Regions from separate parts of the Homo sapiens genome. Here region 2 is linked to region 1. The links come from fine-mapping of genetic effects on gene expression. A gene starts in region 1. The other region holds a variant in brackets. All regions are shown on one strand. Distances are from middle to middle. Region 1 holds the start of DTWD2 (DTW motif tRNA-uridine aminocarboxypropyltransferase 2). Region 2 overlaps DTWD2 (DTW motif tRNA-uridine aminocarboxypropyltransferase 2).

Evidence for each region. PIP is the estimated chance that this variant, and not a neighbour inherited with it, causes the effect.
Region 2: its variant is the best candidate, but not a certain one, in a credible set for the expression of DTWD2 in fibroblasts (GTEx, PIP 0.64).

Annotation. Positions count from the first base shown.
Region 1 is chr5:118,985,311-118,990,694 of GRCh38, reverse strand. DTWD2 (DTW motif tRNA-uridine aminocarboxypropyltransferase 2) reads left to right here and starts at 2,148. Exons shown (of 6, transcript NM_173666.4): 1 at 2,148-2,401. The coding sequence starts at 2,184. RefSeq lists a silencer at 2,235-2,564.
Region 2 is chr5:118,962,220-118,967,603 of GRCh38, reverse strand. The region is part of intron 1 of DTWD2 (DTW motif tRNA-uridine aminocarboxypropyltransferase 2); the gene reads left to right. Among named protein-coding and RNA genes, the nearest start is that of MIR1244-2, 9.7 kb to the left of the region's middle. The variant A/G (reference allele first, on the strand shown) is at 2,431.

The sequences.
Region 1 (5,384 bases):
CACAAACCTGGATATTGGGTGAATTTCTTGCTTCCTATAGAGGAAAATGGCTCTCCTTTCTCAACTCTGTGTCTTGCCTGGATGGAAGCTTTCTTTGATTTTGGTCAGCCTCTGAGACAATGGACTTGTAGGGGATTTTCTTCATAAGGAGCGGAGATGGAGCAGGAGACCACTTAGGTCTTTGGCAATATTCTATGCAAGAGATGACGGGGGCTTGAACCAGGGCAGAAGTAGTAGGTGAGATAAATGTTTGGATTTTGAATACTTTGAAGGGTAAAGCCAATAATCTGATATGGGGTGTTAAAAGGAAGCCCCAAGTAAGTAGGCTCACATCAACCTAAAAGGAAGGAGCAGAGGCAAAATTAATATAGAGAGTTTATTTGGGCCAACGTTGAGGACTGTAGCCTAGGTCGTACTTCCAGGTTGCTGTGGAGAGTGCTCTGGAGAACAAAATGGGCTGGAGTTTTTAAAGAAAAGAGAACGAATCAGCAGAGGGGGGCATTACAAAAGCTATGTCTCAGGAAGTGTCATTTATTTACAGAAATAACATTGGTTAGTGATTGGCTATACATATTGTTGAACTATAGGGTATACGGCGTTTTATGGCTACTCGGTGTCAGTCTAGGGCCTGCATAGCAAGTGCCTTCAAGAGGTAATTATTTAGCTCAAGGGAGAGTGAGACATGACTGCTCGCATTCCTTAGATAAAAAGTTTTTTTTTTTTTCCTTATCATCTGTCTTCTCACACCACACAATTGGGAGTCTCAAGGGACCTTAGAGGACTTGAGCACATTTCACCTCTTGAAATTAAAGATGAGCAGCTTCCTTTCGTTTAAAGATAAGTCACATGAGAATTTAATTTTGGCAGTTAAAGAATTGGTTCCCCAACCTAAATCTACAGACAAGATGAATTTTCTGATTCATCTCCTTTCCTACAGTTTCTGGATTTTGTTTATCCTCCGATTCCAAATGGCATAATTGCTAGTTCTTTCTCCCACTCTACGTCCATCACCAGGTGGGTGTTTCAGCCTTTTTCTATCCCTCACATAGGACGCTCCAAAGGAAAAGAGAGGTGCTGTTTCCGGGGGGAAAGAACGTAGGATAGTTGAAAACAGCACGGTATTTTATTCACAAACTTGATTTTAAGATGACTGAAAAATCTAATGTGAAATAAACATTTTAAGAAATACAGTATTTGCTCTATTACTGTGTTGTCTACTTTGCCTCACATTTAATCTATTACAACTATAGAGTTAAGACAACTGTGATTCCTAAGCTTAATTCACATGATTGATCAAAACCAAGCTTAATTCTGTTTTAATGTTGTGTATTGCTGGAAGTAACACAAAGCATTAATAAACAAAAGGAATTCGATACCCATTTTGGGTAAATAGTATTTCTGCCTTCATTCTAACATAGATTTCATTTTGGCTTTTAAAAAACAGCTGCTGTGCTATATACCGCCGTATCCAGTAGTTGTTAAATACCTGGGCAACGTTACCTTTCTAGGGCTTGTTTCCTCATACATAAAACCTATTGGTACCCCGGGCCAGCTCTCCTATTGCTTCCTGATCGGGGACGATCTAAAAATCTAATTTAACAAATATCTGGTGTCCAGTGTAAAATAGCATGCTTGATGTCTTATTAGCACAAGACATAGAAGAGCAGGAAATTCACATAAGGAAACGGACCAGCTGTGAGTAGTTCCCAGTGGATATAACCTCTCCTTTGTTGGCCTTTAAATAATAAGTGCATCAGCTGCCGCACCTGCGATGCATGCACGCGTGGAAATCCTGCAAATTCTTAAACTGCCATCCCAAGGCGGAAAATGCAGAATTCCATTTTATTTTAACTTTTAAAGGAGTTAAATTCGGGCTTGGTACTGGGGTCCTCTCGGGGAGGTTTCCCTTACCTCTCCCAATGACGCTACTTAACCTCACCAGCACTCCAACACTGCCCACACTTGCCTACCCAGTTCTAGGTGAACGGTCCCACTGGGCACGGACCAATGGGCTCGTTCCTTCCCAGCGGCAGGGTGGGACCTCCAGCCTGGGCTTCGGAGACCCGCCCCCCGTACGTGGCGTGCGGGCATTGCGCTACGCGGCGCGGGCCGGTTTCTACAGCGCGTGGCGCCCCCCGGCGGCAGCCGGGCTTCAATGCCACGGCCTGACCGGAGTGTCCGCCATGGAGTCGCAGAAAGAGGCACGAACACTCCAGGAGCCCGTTGCGCGGCCTTCTGGGGCCTCAAGCTCTCAGACGCCGAACGACAAGGAGCGGCGGGAGGGCGGCGCAGTGCCGGCGGCGGCTGCCCTGGGCGCAGAGGCGGACGACGACAGTGCGGACGGGCTGTGGGAGCTGCCGGTGGAGCCGGCCGAGCGGAGGCCTGAGTGCACCCGCTGCAGGTGACCGCGGGGCTGGGGGCGGGGACTGCAGCCGGCAGCGGCCTTCGGAGGAGGGTGCGGCGCCCCCTGCCGGGGAGTCGGCGGCTCGGGCAGCTCTGCGATTAGGGCGGCGGAGTTGGCGGGTGCACGTTGGAAATCTCGGAAATGCCAGGCACAGCTACCTAGTAAGAAGCCCTTTTTCCAGGTTCATGATTATCTAACCTTACTTCCTGCAATATGCTGAGCGTATCATGGGATGAGCAGACATCAGTTCTGTTTCCAAGAAACTTAAGCGTCCAATAGGGGAAGTAAGGGGTGATGACAGTAATACTTGTAAAATAGTTACACAGTCATATTTAAGTGGCATAGTTATATCACAGTTAAAAAGCATAAAGTGGATTGGAGGAGAGAGACAGTCTCCTTTACCTATCCTACCAGAACTCTAAATATAGGGCCTTTTCAGGTGTTCATTCTAGGTTCTCTTCAAACCCTACATACGTCCCACTGGTAATTTATAAAATCAGTTTTCATGGTAAATTATCATCTATATCCCAGTGTGTCTAGCTCAGACCTTTCTTCGGAACACCAGACCTGTGCATTAATTTATCAGGTGTTTATTGAGTGCTTTGGTAATCACTGACAATGCAGTGGAGTTCATGTTTTTGTAGAGTATTCTCTTACTGGATACGGATAATAAACCAGCAAACAAGCAATCAAATATGTAATTACAAACTGGGAAAAAAGCAGTGAAGGAAAGGAATGGGTTGCTACTGTAGAAAATAGCTCAATGGTGTCATGAACTATCTCTGAGATTTGAAAGATGAGAAGAATCCAGCCAGGGGAAAAGCATTCCAAGAAGGGGAACAGAAGGACTGAATATGGTTGAAGATCTTTACTGCTTGAATACTTGGAGTATCACACTTTGGACATTTTGACCTTTTCCTAGGGCTGGATTGTAAGACTTCAGAGGAAAGGATCTTGAATGTAGAATGTTTTTATATTTTCTAAATGTACTATGTATAGTTGACGCTCAGTAAACCTCTGAGGAGGATGGAAAATTTGTGATTAGAAGGGACTGTGAATTTGAACATAGGGGTTTGTGAATACAATTAATTTAAACAAGTCGTCTGAGGGGGTTGGGGAAGCATTTAAAAATGTTTGGAGGGGTCTCAATAGGATACTGGAGGAAAAGTGTTTCAAATATAAATCAAAGGCTAAATTACTGTGCTAGTTTTATTTAGTTTTTAGTCTGTTCAGAATTGTTAATTATAAATATATAGGTAAAAATCTGTTTAGCAGAGATTTATTTTATGATGCTTTTTTAAAAAAATGGCTTGCTGAATTTAATCTTTTTTTCAGTTACGTTTAGTTAATACCTTAGGATTACAATTTTCCCCAACATTTCTGCACTTTGCTTATTTCTGGTGAAATTTGCTACCTGTGAAAAGCTCTCCTCCCTCTTGCTATGCATTTTATTTGCTTTAATTAGGTAGACTATAATTCTACACTTTGCTTATTTCTTGTGAAATTTGCTACCTGTGAAAAGCTCTCCTCCCTCTTGCTATGCATTTTATTTGCTTTAACTAGGTAGAATATAATTCTAGAATTATGGAGAATATTTAGGTGTTGTCAATAAAATATAAATGAATTGATGGCTTTTTATATTTTATTTCATTATGCTATTAGAGTTCTACTAGTACCCTGGGTGAACTTCTTTACATTTATGGTTAAAATAGTTTTAAAAATGCATTCTTAGATTTGATTGATCATTGAGTCACAGTTATTTGGCTATTTACTTAAACTGTATTCATTTCTCTGAACACATTACTACAAATGTCACAGCCTAGGGGAGTTCCAGAAATTAGCTTTGTTCAGGAAGTGCAAACTCAGTTTAACTTTTCAGCAGAATCTTGCTCATTATAAATATAACATATCTTAAATATGAATGGAATATTCTTTAAAAGATCCCAAACTTGTAATTTATTATTGCAAGATATAGATTCTATAAATGTATTCTGTCCTTTATGTATGTCTTGTTTACAAAACCTGCCTGTATTCCATTTACCTCTTAGAATACCTTTCCTATCCCCCATTCCCAAACGTATATAATTTTTTTTTTCAGATAAAGACAAAACCTTGGCTGATCTCCCCAGAGTATGTATCATTAGCATTATTTGAGATAACATAAGAAGGCTGAGGGTCATGGGACATGGTAGGTGCACAAAAGATTTGTTGAACTACTTGGTAAAATTCAGTTGTTCAACAAATATTTTTGGAGACCCTTCTTCCAGACGGTGTGATAGGCTATGAAATACAAAGATGAAAAAGAGATGACTTCAGTTCTCCTGAATATCAGGATCTAGTGGAAAGTGGCATATCTATTTAAATGGGGAGCCCTCAGATTAAAAATCCTATGATGTAGGGCAGTTTTTTCAAATTATAGGTAATGAACCGCATCAAATTTTTGAAGCTCTGAAGAAAACAGCAAAAAGTGTTTTCTGAACTTTTCAAAGTAAAAGTATTTGTAAAATAACTTTGTTCAAGTTAAAATCATCTTGCTAATTTAAACATTCTTATTTAAATTATATGACATCAGAGTGGAAAGATTTAAACACTTTTTATATGTGTTTGATATCCTTTGGCAGTCTTCGAAATTAGGCCGTCGTGGAGTAAGAGTCAGAAGGCAAAAGGATGCATGTTCACCAAGTAGTGCTTCTGAGATTTTACTAGAGTCTTTAATTTTGTTAGGAAATAAAGTGTAATATACGTGTGTATATGTATGTATATATGTGTGTGTATATATATATATATATATATATATATAAAAATGCACATAAGCATGTGGTCTTTTTCTTGTTGAATTCTATACTATCAGCTTCTTTCTTAGATGGGTATATGTAAGGTGTTATAGGAACATATAAAAAGGTGCTCCTAACCCTAAGTTTGTATGGTGGAGATGAGGAAAAGATCTGGGAAATCTTGGAAGTGACATGTAAGCTGAGAC
Region 2 (5,384 bases), 23 kb after region 1:
TTGTTCCCTCCTGGGTCATTGAGAACTCTTTCAGGTTGGTTCCTGGAACCTTTTGACAGGCTTATCCTTTTTTGAGAACTTTCTTACTTTCTGACACTGTAAGATGATCCAGGCTTATCTTATATTTTCCCTGCCCCAGCCCTAGAATCAACCACTTTTTCAGGAAGCCCTGGTTTATTGTAAAATGATATTCAAAACCAAGATCCGGGTGCTTGGTGTGCTTATTGCTACTGAGATGTTTATCTTATTAGTGGACAGATCTAGGATTTCTGTGTATATACTAACCCATGCATATACCTATATCTATTTCTAAATCTATATGTACACCTACACTTATGTAAAGAAACCATGAGTTTCATCCAATACCACAGAGTTCATTCTAGTCTTCCTCCCTTCTCTAATTGTAGTTTATTTCTTTGACAGTAAGAAATCTGACTCTCTTTATCTGCAACATGTTTGATTATTTGTTCAACCCTAATCTACACATACAGTTGTTTTGGAATTGCGAACCCATACTTCTGTTACTATTTGACTTTTTTTTTTTTTGAGTTACTGATTGTCTTTTTTTTTTTTTGAGATGGAGTCCCCCTCTGTTGCTCTGCTGGAGTGCAGTGGCGTAATCTTGGCTCACTGCAACCTCTACCTCCCAGGTTCAAGAGATTCTCCTGCTTTAGCCTCCCAAGTAGCTGGGACTTACAGGCACCTGCCACCGTGCCTGGCTAATTTTTGTATTTTTAATAGAGACGGGGTTTCACCACATTGGTCAGGCTGTTCTCGCACTCCTGACCTCAGGTGATCCTCACACCTCAGCCTCTCAAAGTGCTGGGATTACAGGTGTGAGCCACTGTGCCTGGCCTCTGATTGACTTTTAATTTGTAATTATGGAGAACTGTTAGGGAAAGCAACATACTAGGAGATGGATTTTGATAGTGATAACTTTTATCAGTTTAATTAACTTAGGTATCATTCCTATCAACTTTTCCTTCTATAGTTTACTTTGCCTTATGTAATGTACTAAAGATATAAGACTGGCATTATAGCATATCATCAACTAATTTGCCTGAGTATGATCATAAGAAAATATTAAACATCTTTTCTGTTGCAAAGATCTAAAAACCACAGATTGTTGGAGTAACTTTGAGGTGACAGATATTCAATGCTTCTTAAAAATATATATTTTTTCTGAACACAAAAGAGGTGTATACTCAGAAGAAAAAGTCACACTTTACAGAAATAAATGAAACATACAGAAATTCCTCATAACCCTTTATGACAACCACTGCGCACCCACATATACCAGATAACTGTTCAATGCTTTTTTAAACTTGAACATTTTATCATATTTTTTGAGGTTTACTTTTGTAAATTTGCCAGAATGATAAACGGCCAAATCCCACTGTACATCTAGGAAACTAATACAGATGTTAGGAGAAATTGTGGGATTTTGATAGTATTAAGGTATTTTTCTGGGCAGGGTTTTTTTCTAGGCAATGCATGACTGCACCCAAACCGTAGCTGATATCTTTATGAGTTTCTCAAGAGAAATAGTGGTATGTGCATAATGCCCAGTGGCAAGTGAAAAACAAGGAATTAAGAGATACTTCTTCCTGGCATCTCTTTTTTTTTTTCTTTTTCTTTTATTTATTTATTTATTTTTATTTATTTTTTTTATTGATCATTCTTGGGTGTTTCTCGCAGAGGGGGATTTGGCAGGGTCACAGGACAACAGTGGAGGGAAGGTCAGCAGACAAACAAGTGAACAAAGGTTTCTGGTTTTCCTAGGCAGAGGACCCTGGGGCCTTCCGCAATGTTTGTATCCCTGGGCACTTGAGATTAGGGAGTGGTGATGACTCTTAACGAGCATGCTGCCTTCAGGCATCTGTTTAACAAAGCACATCTTGCACCGCCCTTAATCCATTTAACCCTGAGTGGACACAGCACATGTTTCAGAGAGCACCGGGTTGGGGGTAAGGTCATAGATCTTACACCATACCCCAACAGCATCCCAAGGCAGAAGAATTTTTCTTAGTACAGAACAAAATGGAGTCTCCTATGTCTACTTCTTTCTACACAGACACAGCAACAATCTGATTTCTCTATCTTTTCCCCACATTTCCCCCTTTTGTATTCGACAAAACCGCATCATCATCATGGCCCGTTCTCAGTGAGCTGTTGGATACACCTCCCAGACGGGGTGGCGGCCGGGCAGAGGGGCTCCTCACTTCCCAGAAGGGGCGGCCGGGCAGAGGCGCCCCTCACCTCCCGGACGGGGTGGCGGCTGAGCGGAGACGCCCCCCACCTCCCGGACGGGGAGGCTGGCCGGGCGGGGGCTGCCCCCCACCTCCCGGACGGGGCGGCTGTCGGGCGGAGATGCTCCTCACTTCCCAGATGGGGCGGCTGCTGGGCGGAGGGGCTCCTCACTTCTCAGAC[A/G]GGGCAGCTGCCGGGCGGAGGGGCTCCTTACTTCTCAGACGGGGCAGCTGGGCAGAGACGCTCCTCACCTCCCAGACGGGGTTGCGGCCGGGCAGTGGTGCTCCTCACATCCCAGACGGGGCGGCGGGGCAGAGGTGCTCCCCACATCTCAGACGATGGGCGGCCGGGCAGAGATGCTCCTCACTTCGTAGATGGGATGGCGGCCGGGAAGAGGCGCTCCTCACTTCCCAGACTGGGCAGCCGGGCAGAGGGGCTCCTCACATCCCAGACGATGGGCGGCCAGGCAGAGATGCTCCTCACTTCCCAGACGGGGTGGTGGCCGGGCAGAGGCTGCAATCTCGGCACTTTGGGAGGCCAAGGCAGGCGGCTGGGAGGTGGAGGTTGTAGCGAGCCGAGATCACGCCACTGCACTCCAGCCTGGGCAACATTGAGCACTGAGTGAACGAGACTCCATCTGCAGTCCTGGCACCTCGGGAGGCCGAGGCTGGCAGATCATTCGTGGTTAGGAGCTGGAGACCAGCCCGGCCAACACAGCGAAACCCCGTCTCCACCAAAAAAATACGAAAACCAGTCAGGCGTGGCGGCACGCGCCTGCAATCGCAGGCATTCGGCAGGCTGAGGCAGGAGCATCAGGCAGGGAGGTTGCAGTGAGCAGAGATGGCGGCAGTACAGTCCAGCTTCGGCTCGGCATCAGAGGGAGACCGTGGATAGAGAGGGAGACAGAGACTGTGGGGAGAGGGAGAGGGAGAGGGAGACCGTGGGGAGAAGGAGAGGGAGAGGGAGAGGGCAAAGTAGAGGAATTTTCCCCTGGCATCTCTTTCAGCCACCAAATGACCACAACTTGGTGCCTTATATGAAGTATAATTTGGAACCAATCTCATCCTGAAGTCATATCTCATTAATGAGTAAACACATCTGAGATGTTTCATTCTGCAAATTTTTTTTTTTTTTTTTTTGAGATGGAGTCTTGCTCTGTTGCTCAGGTTGGAGTGTAGTGGTGCAATCTCGGCTCACTGCAACCACCGCAACTCCACCTTCTGAGTTCAAGTGATTCTCCTGCCTCAGCCTCCCAAGTAGCTGGAATTACAAGCGTGAGCCACCACGCCTGGCTAATTTTTGTATTTTTAATAGAGATGAGGTTTTACCATGTTGGCCAGGCTGGTCTTGAACACCTGACCTCAAGTGGTCCACACGCCTCGGCCTCCCAAAGTACTGGGATTACAGGTGTGAAGCACTGCACCTGGCCTGCAAATGCTTATATCTTCTTTCACCAAGTTAGGTACTGGGGGTATTAAAATGAATGAAGGTTGGTTGTTACCATAAGGATCTTTAAGGGAAGAAACACAGGTAAGCCAATAATTGTAATATAACATGAATAGTGTGATTTAGGAGTGCAGAGGTGGGAGGGACCCCTGCTTGGAACTTTACAGGGGAGGTGGTATTTAAACTACTCTTTAGTACCTGGCTTCTCTCTGTGCCATCACTCGGCAATGAATTTTTTCAGTCCTGTGCTAATTGAAGTAGTTTTCTAAACTCCATTTTGTCATCTGTTCAATTCCCTTTTAATGAAGTTCTTTATATTTTTAACATGTCTGTCTGCTCATTTTATTCCTTTCCTGGAGAACTTCAATGCTTATATTTTAGGTAAAGAAGGGAGTTCAGAATCTTTTGTGTAACATCCAAGTCCTGCAGGTCAGTCCTCAGCCTGTCCACTCATCTCTTCCTCCTCCATACACCCCTTTCTCCAGCTACACTGAACTGCTCCCCCAAAACAGGTGCTTTTTAATGTTTGGCTCCATGCCTTTGTTCTGTTATTCTGTCTCTGTGAAAAGCTCCTCCCTCATCTGTGCTTTCTGCAATCATACTCTATTTCAAGGTCCAGCTCAAGTTCCATGTCTTGCATGAAACCATTTCTTATCCTTCTAGCTATCTCCCAAGTTTGAATAGTTTCTTCTTCTAACTCCTCACTTTGTCTTTTTTCTCTACTATATTGTTAGCTTCCTGTGGGTCAGCCTCTTCGTATTTCTTACGGTATCTTTAACCACATATCCTTAATTACTTTTTAGCCATTTTATACTGAGGAATTTTATGAATATCTTGGCTTTGATCTTTTGCTTCTGGATCCTCTTTAGACCCTCACGTTTGTTTATTTATCTCTAAATGTTTTAATTCTAGTGCTAGGTCTTCTGGGTTCTAGGACAGCTGGATAGAACTATGTGTTAAGACTTTTCATTGAACATTAACTGCTTATGTGGACTCAGTCAAATGTGTTGATTAAAGGCATGCATTTTGGAATCAGACAGAACCAAGCTCTAGCCCCAGCTCTGTTTTCTCTTGAAAAAGTTACTTAACCTCTCTAAGCCTTAGTTTCATCATCTTTAAGTTAGGCTAAAAATACTACCTCCTGCTGACAGGTTTTGTGAGAATTAAAGTATTTAGCATAGTGCCTAAAACATAAAAGTGTGCAATAAATGTTAAATTCTTTGTCTTTACCTGTCCCTTCTTTTCCTCTCCCTTCTCCTTTTCATTCCCTCTTTTATTTTTACTCCCTAATCCCACTTCCTTTTTCTTCTCCATGAAATATCATTACTGTTTATGAAATTAGTCTGTTTTGCTAATATCCAGCTTCTTTTAGGATTTTTTTTTGGATTCAGAAGTTATCGGCAAATTAATAATTTTTCATGTGTTAATGCGGCAGGTCACCATAAATAAATTGCCTCGTGATGGGAATTTTGTCATTCTGGTACTTTCAGTTGTACTCAATTCTTAGCTGTATATAGGTGTTGCATTGATGAAAACCACTTTTTTAGGGGAAAGGCATCAAAATCAGTGGCTTATTTGTAGCACTATTGTATTCTCTTATATAGTAATGTAATACTAACCTAAATCTTAATGTATTTTCTCTAATTTATAGCAAATAATTTTCTTTTTTTTTGAGACAGAGTTTTGCTCTT